4 linked regions of the Homo sapiens genome follow. The protein of the gene in region 2 purifies or fractionates together with the protein of the main gene of each other region. This does not show direct contact. Each region holds a gene or a part of one and is shown on either strand. Other genes may lie near its edges.

What was found. The genes of interacting proteins can lie anywhere in the genome.
Region 1: the proteins of LCN8 (region 2) and GFM2 purify together in Homo sapiens (affinity purification with mass spectrometry; one large-scale study listed by BioGRID and IntAct). This does not show direct contact.
Region 3: the proteins of LCN8 (region 2) and FAHD2A purify together in Homo sapiens (affinity purification with mass spectrometry; one large-scale study listed by BioGRID and IntAct). This does not show direct contact.
Region 4: the proteins of LCN8 (region 2) and LRRC41 purify together in Homo sapiens (affinity purification with mass spectrometry; one large-scale study listed by BioGRID and IntAct). This does not show direct contact.

What each region holds. Positions count from the first base shown.
Region 1 is NC_000005.10:74,722,118-74,725,617, reverse strand, and holds part of GFM2 (ribosome-releasing factor 2, mitochondrial), read left to right. Parts: intron 1-3,056; coding exon 3,057-3,239; intron 3,240-3,500.
Region 2 is NC_000009.12:136,755,444-136,759,554, reverse strand, and holds the start of LCN8 (epididymal-specific lipocalin-8), read left to right. Parts: upstream 1-1,311; 5' UTR 1,312-1,624; coding exon 1,625-1,648; intron 1,649-2,386; coding exon 2,387-2,517; intron 2,518-2,962; coding exon 2,963-3,033; intron 3,034-3,102; exon of another isoform or gene 3,103-4,038; coding exon 4,039-4,111. UniProt on the Homo sapiens protein: May play a role in male fertility. May act as a retinoid carrier protein within the epididymis.
Region 3 is NC_000002.12:95,414,912-95,417,116, forward strand, and holds the end of FAHD2A (oxaloacetate tautomerase FAHD2A, mitochondrial), read left to right. Parts: 3' UTR 1-1,705; downstream 1,706-2,205. UniProt on the Homo sapiens protein: Tautomerase that converts enol-oxaloacetate, a strong inhibitor of succinate dehydrogenase, to the physiological keto form of oxaloacetate. It is thereby required to maximize aerobic respiration efficiency by preventing succinate dehydrogenase inhibition.
Region 4 is NC_000001.11:46,279,617-46,283,116, forward strand, and holds part of LRRC41 (leucine-rich repeat-containing protein 41), read right to left. Parts: intron 1,770-3,500; coding exon 1,509-1,769; intron 945-1,508; coding exon 780-944; intron 675-779; coding exon 576-674; intron 1-575. UniProt on the Homo sapiens protein: Probable substrate recognition component of an ECS (Elongin BC-CUL2/5-SOCS-box protein) E3 ubiquitin ligase complex which mediates the ubiquitination and subsequent proteasomal degradation of target proteins.

The sequences.
Region 1 (3,500 bases), on a different chromosome or scaffold from region 2:
ATGGCTTTAAGGTGACTCTTCTGAGTATAGTACCACTGATCTTGCAGACAGCTGTGTTTACAGAGCCTTATCTTGTGTCTTTGCCTCCTCAGCCTTGTGGTCAACAAGAGTTCTTATCATGGAGAATCTCTGATTTCTTAATCACCAGGTTTTTATTTCAAAGAGGATCTTAGAAATTACTATGTAACATGGATTGCTATTGGAATATACTCTGATAAAGAGGCAAGCTTCCTTAAGTGACATTTCTGCTTTCCCCATCCCTGACAGACAGCTATTAGAGGCAAGCATGGTAGGTTTGAGTAGAAGCCAGATTTGAGGTTAGCTTGGCCCAAAATGGACTGTAATCTAAAGAACACTGAAGATCCAATATTGGTTCCAGTTTTGGAGATTGTTATTCAAATAAGATTGCTTTAGTGCTTGCTTCAGCAGCACATATACTAAAATTGGAACGATACAGAGAAGATTAGCATGGCCCTGCACAAGGATGACATGCAAATTCTTATAGAGTTCCATATATTTCTCTACTTATATTAAATTATAAAGATTGCTTTAATCAAGGACCATTGAAACCAGTTAAGTCCCACTGAATAACAGATTCAGGCTAAGCACCTTCTCTTCTCAAAGCATCAAGCAATGGGTCTTCTTGGTGTGGTTATCTGGGGAGTTTGTCCTTAAGTGTCGTGGACCCTCCGCTTCCTGCCTCATGAACCTACCAGAACTGGATTAACTCCCAGGAGTGTGGTATGCTGAATGCTGATTCCATGCATTCTTCTCAGCATTGAACTACCCTAATTTCTTAGGTGATTGCTTTTGCATTATTTATACTTGGTTTTATAGCCATTTTTTAATACTTGGACTGTGTTTGAGACCCAATTTTCTGTAGTTTTATTTGAATCCGAAATTACAAAGTTAATTTAAGTATTCCAAACCCCTAACCTAAGAAAGCCAAACTTGATATCTCTTCGACATGAGTTTAAATTTATACTTCTTAAAAAGCTTTTTGATTAAAAACAAAGCTTTGAAAAAAGTTTAAATATTGTTCACCTAAGAGTATGTTGGAAATGTTACCTGCAAAGTAGTTATGACGATATTGTTGAGAAAATTCACCCTCAAGTAATTTTTAAATTGTTTTTTTTTTTTTTTTAAGAGACAAGGTCTCACTATGTTGCCCAGGCTGGTCTTGAACTCCTGGGCTCAAGCAGTCTGCCAACCTCGGCCTCCCAAACCCAAAGTGCTAGGATTACAGGTGTAAGCCACCATGCCCATCCCCAAGTAATTTTTAAAGTTTCTCTGGAAATTGGTTTTAATATTGAAACTAAGGTAATCTGAAAAATAATGCAGTTTCTAAATTGACCCCAAGCCCTCAATATATTGGCCTGTCCTTCAAAATGTAATATGCCTTCTAAAAATAAAGTCTGCATTTCCATGTTCATTTGCCTTTTTAATAAGATTATGCCAGAGAACAAGAATTAACTTTATGGGGGCTTACATTTAGTCATTAGTGTTAATTCGTTACTTCAAACAAAACACTCCTAATGGAAGTACTGCTACCCTTGTTAAGCTTCTTCTAATGGGGAATCTCCTTCTCTCTGCTTGTAAGTGCTTCATGTATTTATTGAGTCATCTGTGTTGTGCTTATAGTTCACCAGGCACTGAGAAGGACACAAATAGGATTATATTTTACTCTACCTAAAGGAGCTTGTGATTTCATAAGGGAATTAAATATAGCCAAAGTATTAGATAAAATGGGTGAATGCCATGAAAGTAGTAGGAAGCAGGGAATTGGGGAGGATTCTTGGAAAGATTTATATTTGAGCTGAGATGATTTTGGAGGACGTGAGCATGGTGGGGGACATTCCAGACACAGATAAGAGTCCTTTTAACTGTAGTACCAGATGAAGGCAGGGGAGTTGTGTGTTGAAAAAGTAAAATGGTTTCAGACTGTAGAGAAAACTTTAAAAACTACATTAAAGAGTTTGAACTTTGTTCTGAGAATGGTGGAGCATAATTTAAAGGTTTCGAAGAGAGAAGTATCAAAGTACAGAAGGGATTTGAATAGGGAAGAGATAGTAGAGGACAGGAAATGGACTAAGTTTGACCTAGGATGCCAGCAATAGGAATGGGAAAAACAAAAAAAATCTTACAGCTTACTTGGGGAAAAGGAAGTCAAAGGTGAACTGAAGACTACTGATGTCATCATCAGAAAAAGGGATGTGCATAGAAGTGTTTGGAGAAGAAAATGATGAGCTCAGTGTGGGACATGTTGGAGAGCTGCCGGATATTCAGACACTATCCCAAAGCAGGCCAATGGAGTACAGGACTGGAGCACTCAAACTATGGGCTGCATAGGATTTAACGTTTTTGAGGAAGCCATGTTGAAGTCGTTTTTGAAGCTCTCCAGATAGGTAATATTGACAGGAAAAGATTGTGAAAAGAGGACTAAGAACAGTTCTGTGAGCATGGTATGCCCTAGTTAGATATGCAGAATTCAATCTTTTTTAGGATTTTTTTCTCTTAATTTTTACATCCTTTTCAATTCCATTATTTTATTCTGAAAGACATTTTCAGTTTCCACATTCTTTATGCATGTTCTTCTTGGCCTTTGAAATCTAAGATTCTAAATAAGAAAAGATTTTACATAATGTTTCTACTACCTTATTGCACTAAATTTTTCCTTTTTTTTAAGCTCTCCCCTTTATTGCTGTCTCTGGCATGTGGCATGGCATGGACTGTAATTATAGACATCAGGAACAGAAACATGAGGTTTAAATATGAACAAATGAATCTTTGAAAGGGGAGGACTTTCTGTGACTCTGACCACATGTTCACAGGCATTTTTTATAAACATCCCCTTGCATCATACCATACAAAAGATCTATAAATTCTGTTATCATGCTTATTATACAAGCAAATATTATAGTTGTTGCCATCTTATAAAACGTTATCTTTAAAGAGAGAGTTAAAGCAAGCTTATGTCTTTTTGTATGAGCTCTAGGCTGTATTTATTTTAAGTTTTTATTTATGAAAGATAAGTTAACATTCTTTAATTTCTTTAGGCTCTGAAGAAAGCTGATAAGCAAGTTTTGGAGCCTCTGATGAATCTTGAGGTTACAGTAGCTAGAGATTATCTCAGCCCTGTCCTGGCAGATCTGGCACAAAGAAGAGGAAACATTCAGGAAATTCAGACTCGCCAGGACAACAAAGTTGTTATTGGATTTGTTCCCTTAGCAGAAATTATGGTAGGTACTTTGTAACTGAAAAGTACATATTCTTCTTAATTCAGGGGATATTATATGCCAATGAATAGACAATCAGTAACCTGAAAGAAACATTAAGGCTTTGATTTAGAGAATACATGTTAAGTTTCGTTTCAACCAGCAGGAATGGTTAGGACTTTGAATTTAAATTGTTGGCGAAATCCAGGGATTATAGCACTACAAGGGGGTATTTACAGTCCCAAAATGTGGTACCAGCCTATATGACCATTTTTTCCCTGCCAA
Region 2 (4,111 bases):
AGGCAGGGAGGCAAGTGTGAGAAGGCCCTGGCCGAGGGAGCAGGACGCAGGGGTGAGAGGGCAGGAGGCAGGGGTGAGAGGCCCTGGGGAGGGGCAGGGGGCAGGGGTGAGGGGCCCTGGGAAGGGGCAGGGGGCAGGGGTGAAGGGCCCTGGGTGAGGGGGCAGGGGACAGGGGTGAGGGGCCCTGGGGAGGGGCAGGAGGCAGCAGCCACTCTTGGCCTGTGTGGGGGCTGCACCCACAGGAAGAATGGAGCATCCTGGCCCAGTCCCTATGGGTCTGCAGTGCTGTGGGGAACTGGGCACCCTGTGAAGACGGCCCGGCCACTGGGGCTGTGCTGGGCACACAGGCCCCGGTGCCGGGGGGGGAGCTGGGGGAGCTGCAGGAGGCCGGGGAGTTAGGCCCACTTGGGTTTTGCCCCTCACCACTGATATGATCGTGGGCACCTGGTTTACACCCCTGGAAATGGGTCACCGTTGTGGCCAGGGGACTGCCAGCCAGCCTGAGCGCTCCACAGCAGACCCACAGACATAGGTAGCTACCCAGCGTACTCCTCATTTCAAAGATCAGGAAACTGGCCTGGCGCGGTGGCTCATGCCTGTAATCCCAGCACTTTGGGAGGCCGAGGCGGGTGGATCACTTGAGGCCAGGAGTTTGAGACCAGCCTGGCCAACATGGCAAAACCCCGTCCCTACTAAAAATACAAGACTTAACCGGGCGTGGTGGCGCACACCTGTAGTCCCAGCTACTCAGGAGGCTGAGGCAGGAGAATCGCTTGAACCCAGGAGGCAGAGGCTGCAGTGAGCTGAGATTGTGCCACTGCACTCCAGCCTGGGCGATGGAGCAAGACTCTGTCTCAGGAAAAAAAAAAAAAGAAAAAAAAAATCAAGAAACCGAGGCACAGAAGGGTTGGGTAACTTATCCAAGGCTGCACAGCCAGGAAGAGGCCAGGCGGGCTGCAAGCCTGGGTGATCAGGCTCCAGGGCCGGGCTCCACACTGCCCCCGGGTGGTGATGCCTGGTGCAGCAGAGGCCCTCCCCACTGTCACTGTCACTCTGGTCGCTGGCGCTGTGCCTCCGGCCTCCGGAGCTCTGACTGCCCACTGCGTCTGGCACACATTTCAAAGGGCCAGGCGTGGGGTGGCACAGGAAAGTGCTGGAGGCTCTGGTCCGTTGCCCATCAGTGCCCACAGCCCTCGCAGCGCAGGCCAGAACGAGCCCAAAAAAACAAGTGTCATGTGGGGTGGGGGTCACCGAGCCCCAGGTGGTGTGGGTGGAGCTCCTCTTCCTCTCAGGCTCCGAGACGGCCCCAGCAGCGTCCACCGCTGTCCATATGCCAGGAGGGTGGCTGGGCAGGCTGCTGTCTAGGCCAGGCTAACCCCTGCGGTGGGCGTGGGTGTCACCAGGGCCGATGGCGCTTGTGCAGAAACCCACGTCTCTGAGCTGCCAGCAGCCAAGCTGTCCTGATGACATTCCCGGGTGGGCGCACAAGCCTGCACTGTCCGTATAGAATCGGCCCAGGCTGTGCAGCAGGGGAACCCGGAGCCCGGACCCCGCCACGGAGGCCAGGCTGCCGTGCACCATCCTGGGTGTCCTCGTGGTGCTCCGGGCGCAGGTGGCAGCAGCCATGGAGGAGCTGGACCGGCAGAAGGTGGCTTCTCCTTCTTAGTTGGTGGGGCTCCTCCTACACCCCCAACCCCTCAGGCTCAGGGAAGGAGGCCTCTCCCGGTGTGGGGAGCTCGTGGGGACGCTGGTGCCCGGCTAGACACTTCCTGTTAGCGGCATTTTCTTCTCCGCTGAGTCTGTGCCGGCTGCTGGGCCAGAGGCACATTAGCAGGCCCAGAGAAGGTAGATGCCGGAGACGAAGATTCTTTCCTCCCGAAAATGGTAGGGTTTTTAAAAGTCTCAGCGGAAGTCCCGGCTCTGGGCGGGTTGCTGAGGGCAGGAGGCCCATCCTCTGGCGTGGTTGGCAGGCTGGCGAGCTGCGCTACCCGAGCCACCTGTTCTCTGGCGTTTCTCACTCCGCCGCGCCCTGCGGGCTTTCTTTTCCAGGCCTCTGCTCCTGGGTCCTGCCTCCGAGGTCAGGCAGGGCCTGTGGTTCCTCCCGACATGTCGCAGAAGCCCTAGGGACTGTTCCGCAGCTCTAGATGGCCCAGTGGGGAGGGGCTGCCCTGTGGGCATTGCTGTCTGATGGCCTGAAGGCACCGCTTGGAGGGACACATGCCTGGGGACAGTGGGCTCACAGATGTCTTGCTGCTTTGCCACCGAGCCTCACAGCCATCTGCTGACCTCTCAGAGCCCAGCAGGCCCCTGCCCGGGGGTTCGTGGAATGCCCCTGGGGGTCTCAGACCCACTGCTCAGCTCTTGGCCAGGCTCCGTATCTCTCTAGATTGGAGGATTCTGGAGGGAAGTCGGTGTGGCCTCCGATCAAAGCCTGGTGCTGACGGCCCCGAAGCGGGTGGAGGGCTTGTTCCTCACCTTGAGCGGGAGTAACCTGACCGTGAAGGTTGCATATAACAGGTAAGAGGCCTGGGGGCTGCTGGAGAGGAAGAGGCATGCATGGCCGGGGACTGGGCGTGGGTTGCTGCACCCGCTGCAGCGTGGGGTCTGGGCTGAGTGCCGTCCCGCTGGTGGGCCAGCACTCCCGGTGCCCGTCTGCCTGAGCCCTCGACCCCCAGGCTCCTGGATCTGCATTTTATCCCAAATATAAGCATAGTGTTTTAATGAAGCCCCGTGAACTTAGAAGGAAGGAAAAGGGGTGTGGGACAGGTGACTGGCTGGAGGGAACAGAATCCCCAGGGGAAGGCCCCACCTGGCACATTCCCCGCCTCATCCTGCTCCAGGCCTGGGATACTCCACAGTGCTGCCTGTGCCCTTCCTAAAGACACAGCCCCACTCCGGGAAGGAGCCCAGCAGGCGGGACACAGGCTAGCATTTTACCGATGGGCACTTTGCTGCCTTTCAGCTCAGGAAGCTGTGAGATAGAGAAGATCGTGGGCTCAGAAATAGACAGTACGGGAAAATTCGCTTTTCCTGGTAAGTGCAGTTGCCCTGTGATGGCAGGTGGAACCCGGCTGTGCACACAGCTAGGCCTTATTGTTCCCCATGCTGTTCCCTGCACTGTTCCCCATGCTGTTCCCTGCACTGTTCTCTGTGCTGTTCCCTGCACTGTTCCCCATGCTGTTCCCTGAACTATTCCCTGTGCTGTTCCCCATGTTGTTCCCTGCACTGCTCCCTGCACTGTTCCACATGCTGTTTCCTGCACTATTCCCCATGCTGTTCCCTGCACTTTTCTCTGCGCCATTCCCCATGCGTTCCCTGCACTGTTCCCTGCACTGTTCCCCATGCTGTTCCCTGCGCTGTTCCCCATGCTGTTCCCTGCACTGTTCCTCATGCTGTTCCCTGCGCTGTTCCACATGCTGTTCCCTGCGCTGTTCCCCATGCTGTTCCCTGCACTGTTCCCCATGCTGTTCCCTGCAATGCTCCCTGCACTGTTCCCCGCACTGCTCCCTGCACTGTTCCCCATGCTGTTTCCTGCACTATTCCCCATGCTGTTCCCTGCACTTTTCTCTGTGCCGTTCCCCATGCATTCCCTGCACTGTTCCCTGCACTGTTCCCCATGCTGTTCCCTGCAATGCTCCCTGCACTGTTCCCCGCACTGCTCCCTGCACTATTCCCCATGCTGTTCCCTGCACTTTTCTCTGTGCCGTTCCCCATGCATTCCCTGCACTGTTCCCTGCACTGTTCCCCATGCTGTTCCCTGCACTGTTCCCCATGCTGTTTCCTGCACCGTTCCCCATGCTGTTCCCTGCAGGGTTCCCTGCACTGTTCCCCATGCTGTTCCCTGCACATTTCATGCCCCAGACCTTCCCATTCTCCCACCAACACACTGGATCATCCTTCAAAAGCTTCTGTAGTGTCTCCAACCACTCAAGTGCTGGGACTGGGTGGGGGCAGGATGGAGTTAGACCCTGCAGACCCTGGCCTTCGAGGTCCGTCCCCCTCAGACGTCTCCCCCAACGCCATGGCCGGCTCTTGAAGGCCACAGAGAGATCCACGTGCTGGACACCGACTACGAGGGCTACGCCATCCTGCGGGTGTCCCTGATGTGGCG
Region 3 (2,205 bases), on a different chromosome or scaffold from region 2:
AAAACAAAAAACAAAACCAATAACTCAGTAAGCAGATTAAACAAAGGTAGAGACGGAGCCCTCCACCCCTCTCACACACTCATCCTCACACCCAGCTATACCACACCCCACAAATGTTGCTTATGTTTCCTTGGTCATTCTGTCCATCCTCCTGTCTGTCCAAAGCCAAGGACACTGCTCTACTCTAAATTTTTTGTCCCGAAGCCCCCAAATACTGCAACCCTGACCCAATGCACGAAGCCACCCCAAAATACAGCAGAGGACACCAGGACTTTCATTTTCCCTCAGTATGGCCCATCCTTTGGGTATGCCAACTCCATGTCCACCAAGCACTGCATGTAGGACAGGGCACAGTTTGGAGGCCTTGGTCCAGCCACTGCCCCAGACCCACCTTGGCTCTCTCCTCACTAACACCCGAGAAGCCCAGACTTCCCAGTGTTTAGCAACAGATTAAACTCTAAGCCAACAACAACAGAACAGGGTGGAGTGAGTGGAAAGCAAATGAAATGTTAAAAAAAAAAAAAAAGCAATACTTGCATTCTCATTAGTAGGAACATGTGAGATGAAGCATGTTATGTTATTAGGCATTCTCTTGATTCGGTAAACACAAGCTGAATAAATTTATAAATATCAGCATTAAGCGAGATTTAACGGGGAGCTGTTTATCTTCTGCCTGTCAGGCAGGCGGCAACACTCTCCATGTATCACTCGCCAGCCGTGCAGTCCTCACTCTCTTGCCCAGGTAAGCTGGGGAAGAGCCTGCTGCCGCCCAGCTCTGGTTGTGGAAGGGCTGGCACCAAGGAGCTGCGAGCTTACCTCAACTCATCTCACCTCACCATGCCGGCTGCGAGGCGGCCCGTGCAGTCCGTGCGCAGGAGGTCACACTCCCATGCTGCATCCCAGCCCCTCCAGAAGCAGAGCATGACCTGGGTGACTTTGAGGATGCTATTTAACCTCTCTAAGCTAAAGCTCCTCGACTGCAGCATCAACAGATCAGTGCCGACCTGTTAAGGCCGTCGAGAGCATCAAATGCTACTGTTCAGCAGGTGCCTGACACATAGTAGGTCCACAAGCAAATGATTTTCCTGCTTGCATCATTTCTAGCACAGAGCTGGAGGAAATGGCGAGGTGCAGGTGGCCGCTGGGCCCTGCTGTTCTACATGGGAGCAAGACAGCTGCTAGGTGAAGGGGAATGACCAGGCAGCCACAGGGAGGACATGTGGCCTCAGGAAGCCTGGGTGTGTATCCTGGTTCTGCTAGGAACACGTGTGGGGCTTTGTGTGGGTGACTCTCTGGCTCCCCAAGCCTCCCTTTCCTACTGTTATATCCTTAAAGTGCCTCTGAGGCCAAAGCCTTTGTGGCAATTGTCAAATGAGTCCATATGCAGTGAGTACCGTGTTGAGGGAGGACAAGGTCACCAAGAGCTGAGAATGTTTCTCCGACTGATGAGACCTAGATATTGGGTACATGGAGGTCCCCGGTCCCTTTGTGATTCCTGCAGCCTGTTGCCTCCTTGCCTGGACCCCGCCTCAGCTCAGAAAGCCAATTCCCTAGATTCCAAAGGCCTTCCCAGACCAATTAGCATGTCCTGCAGCTGTCAGCTCCCTGTGCCTAGCCTGGACCTCAGCTCATGTCTAGCACCCAGTCTCCCAACCCCACACATATTCACAAATAAAAGAAAATAACAAATGACATGAATTCTTCACTCCTGGTCTGGCTTGCTGTGTGTAAACTGCTATGACAATACAAGACGCAGAGGCGGGTACCCAATAAAAGCTGTTGAAAATGTGACTGACACCGAGTTTCAGCTATCCAGGAAGGCACGGATCCTTACAAGGTCCAAGCAGAGTCCTCGAGAATAGTTGAGAATTCTTGGGTTCCATATGAACTAGGAGATACCCACACAAAGGCTTGGATTTCCCAATACATAACTACCCCTGAACACTCCTTCTTTCCCTCGTCTCTCTGCTGAGACCTCTAGACCCTAAGGATCCACCCAGGACAACCTCTCCAAAGGTACCCTGATATGCTTTTCTTCCAGGCAGCATTTCCACAGAGCTGTGGGTGAAAGTCACAGGATGAAAATGTGCCATGGGACTGTATCTCCCACCAACACACTGCAGGCAAGGGGCACACAGAGTGCCCCCTCTGCCCATCCCAGGAATGGCCATCTAAGAATGATGCAATCTTTTCTAAAAAGAAAGT
Region 4 (3,500 bases), on a different chromosome or scaffold from region 2:
GTCAAGAAAAATTATAGTAAATTCTGATGGCTGCATTAGGACTGGTGCTGCCCCTCCTGCCCCAGTTGGCCCTAGCAAGGGGTATTAACATTATAGAGGCCCAAAAAGAGGAAGGAATTTGTCTAGACTCCAAGCAAGGCTGGAACTAAATCAGAATCCAAACTAAAGACTGAACCTAAATGTTCCCTATAAGAAGGTTCTCTGCATGGACAATTCTCCATTCACTTCCTTCTTTCCCTAACACTGGCCACCCTCTATGCGGGGGTGGGGATCAGAGAAAAGTCTATGAGGGGAGCCTGGCACAGTACATTTATTTTGCCCCACCACCACCATTTTGTCCACCTCTGAAAGGTAAGAGCAACTTTTGGGTGAAGCACTCTAAAAGAGCGATTTCTCATGTTTAGTAGAGGAGGAATTGAGGTTGGGGCTTTTAGAAGGAAAATCATGCAGGTTCTATATCCATTTTATAGCTGAGGACACAAGGCCAAGAAAGGAACAGTGGTTTGCTCACTCAGATTATGGCAGAACCATAGTGAAGACCCAGGAAATGTCCAGGTTCTGAATAAGGAACTTACCTTGCAGAGTCAGATTCTGTAGCAAAAAGAGCACCTCGCTCTGACAGTCAGCGAGATTCATGTCATGGAAGCTCAGTCTTTTCAGGGCTAGGTTGTACTCTGGATAGGAGGCAGAGACCATGGACCATGGACCTTAGCTTTCCTAGAGAACAGTGCTAGGTCCCCACCTACTCCTCTCCCTTCACCATTCTGGCTGGGTCCTACCTTTGAGTGTTTGCAAAACAAGCCCAAAATCCTGGGGAGAGGCAAAGGTGGCACTATCCAGGGACAGCTGCTGCAGAGAACCCGAGGCCTTCAGAACGGAGCACAGCAGTGGGGCTGGCTGGGCTCCCCGTGGAAATCCCATCTCCAACTGCTCCAGGCAGTTTTCTGGATATGGTGGGGAAAGAAGATTCCAGCTGGCCATCTCTACCTCACTCCCATAGCAGGTCCCATCCTGTTCTTAAGGGATTCATCTAAAAAATTATTTATTCATTCACTTGTCGTTGAGTGCCTACCATATGTCAGCACTGTGCTAGATTCTAGGAATTGAGCACTAAATATGAGATTTAGTCCTTGCCCTTGTAGAAATTTTAGACCAGGAAGACAGGCTACCCAGACACAAGCAAATAAAGTATGCAGAGTGGTGGGATAGGAGACATACAAGAACTAAGGGAACATACAGCAGGGGAACTAATCCAGTCTAAAGATCAGTTCTTTTCCTTTTCTGGAGACCAAGCTGCCTTGGTCACTCTCTGCTGGTCTTATGGTGGTTTAGGCCCTGTCTAGCTCAAGAGTATCTTAGTGGTAGGCTCTAAAGGGGGGATAGGTTCCAGATAAGCCAGGAATGAGTGATAGAAGAGGTCCTTCCCCTTTCCCCATACGAATGCATCTGCACCTTTGTGTGGGGATACACGTGCGTGCACACACACAAACACACACACAGTGCTTCACCTGGTATCTCCTCATCGCCTATTATGTGGCTAGGGGGCCCTGCATTCCCTGGCACACCAGGGTTGTCCCGCTGGCTTGGGTGGTCAACACGAATAGAGAGGACCCGTAGCAGGGGCAGTGCTCGCACGATAGCACGTGTCAGCTCCAGGATGGGCAGTGGTGAGAACAGGTCACTGAGATGCAGGGCACGGAGGCGACATCCAGCCTGGCCTGACAGGGCCCGCAGGCTGTCTAGCAGGCGGAAGATGTTAGAGCCCAGGCCTATGGCAAGAAAGAGATTAAGTCAGAACCATGTGGGAGTGTCAGCAGGGGTAATATATTCAAATACAACTCCAAATACTTTTGGTTACTAGCAAATCTCTTGGGCTTTGGCTCAGCTTATTTAAACCCATTTGTCTTAACTACTCATCCATGTCTTGCTTTTTCCTTAGGTAACCAGCAAACTGAGGTCTGCTGTTTTGGGTTATGCCCACAAGAAGCACCAGTCAGGGCAGAGTCACAAAATTGAGAAGATACAATATGGTGAGGCAGCATGTGGCTACTAGCTGAATGACAGGCACAGACAGTAGCAGTTCTCTGGATTTCTGGGTTCTGAGTAGTTTTCTGAAGAAACTGGCCTTGAAGGAAGGAAGTTTTGGATAGAGGGAGAAGACATAGTCAAGAGTCCCAGCTAGCCGGGAGCGGTGGCTCACGCCTGTAATCCCAGCACTTTGGGAGGCCAAGGTGGGCAGATCACTTGAGGCCAGGAGTTCCAGACCAGCCTGGCCAACATGGTGAAACCCTGTCTCTACTAAAAATACAGAAATTAGCTGGGCTGGGTGGCACATGCCTGTAGTCCCAGCTACTCGGGAGGCTGAGGCAGGAGAATCACTTGAACCCAGGAGACGGAGGTTGCAGTGAGCTGAGATCACGCCACTGCACTCCGGCTTAGGTGAAAAAGCAAGACTGTCTCAAAAAAAAAAAAAAAATCACAGCTAGGAGAGTGCAAGGCATGAATGAGACGCTTGCTTGTTTGGCTACATGAGGCTCAGGAAACAGCTCTAGAGGGCAGGGCACTGGAGGCCACATTATGGAAAGGCAAAGGGATGGTTTAACCTAGACGCAATAGGGAGCACCTAAAAACTATGGAGAGTGACAGTGACCCAACTGGGATACTTAAAAGAATCAATGGGTGGGAATGGGGCAGGAAAAGATAACCAAATCCCACAGCATGGACTAGGATCCAGGAAGGTTGGTTGCTTAATGCCACAGGCAAATAATTCCTTGGACTATGCAGGCTCCTGTTCATTCATTCAACTACCCAGTGCCTACTAAATATCAAGTTTTTTGCTAGACACTAGTGAGCAGCACATTGCTTTTTTTTCTTACATAGCTTGATAATGCGATGGGAACTGGGGGAATAAAGTACTATGAAATTACAAAGGATGAGTACCTAGTCCAGCTTACATCAGTAAAGGCACTCCAGCTAAGTCCTAAAGAACATAAAGGGGACAGGCTAAAATTTAGGAAGAATGATTGTGGCAGAGGCAACTTGGCATATGTAGAGGCCTGAAGGAGAACAAAAAAATTTCATAATGGCTGGTGTGAGAGTGTGAAGGGGGGAAGCATTCAAGATACAACTATAGGCCAGGTGTGGTGGCTCACACCTATATAATCCCAGCACTTTGGGAGGCTGAGGTAGGCAGATCACCTGAGGTCGGGAGCCCAAGACCAGCCTGGCCAACATAGTGAAACCCCGTCTCTACTAAAAATACAAAAATTAGCTGGGCATGGTGGCATGTGCCTGTAATCCCAGCTACTGAGTCAGTAGAATTGCTTGGACCCGAGAGGCGGAGGTTGCAGTAAGCCAAGATTGCACCATTGCACTCCAGCCTGGGTGACAACAGAGACTCCCTGTCAAAAAAAAAAAAAAAAAAGATACAACTATAGAGATAACCAGGAGTAAGAATATGAATGACCACTAAGTAAAATTAAGCCATTGAAGGGTGTTTG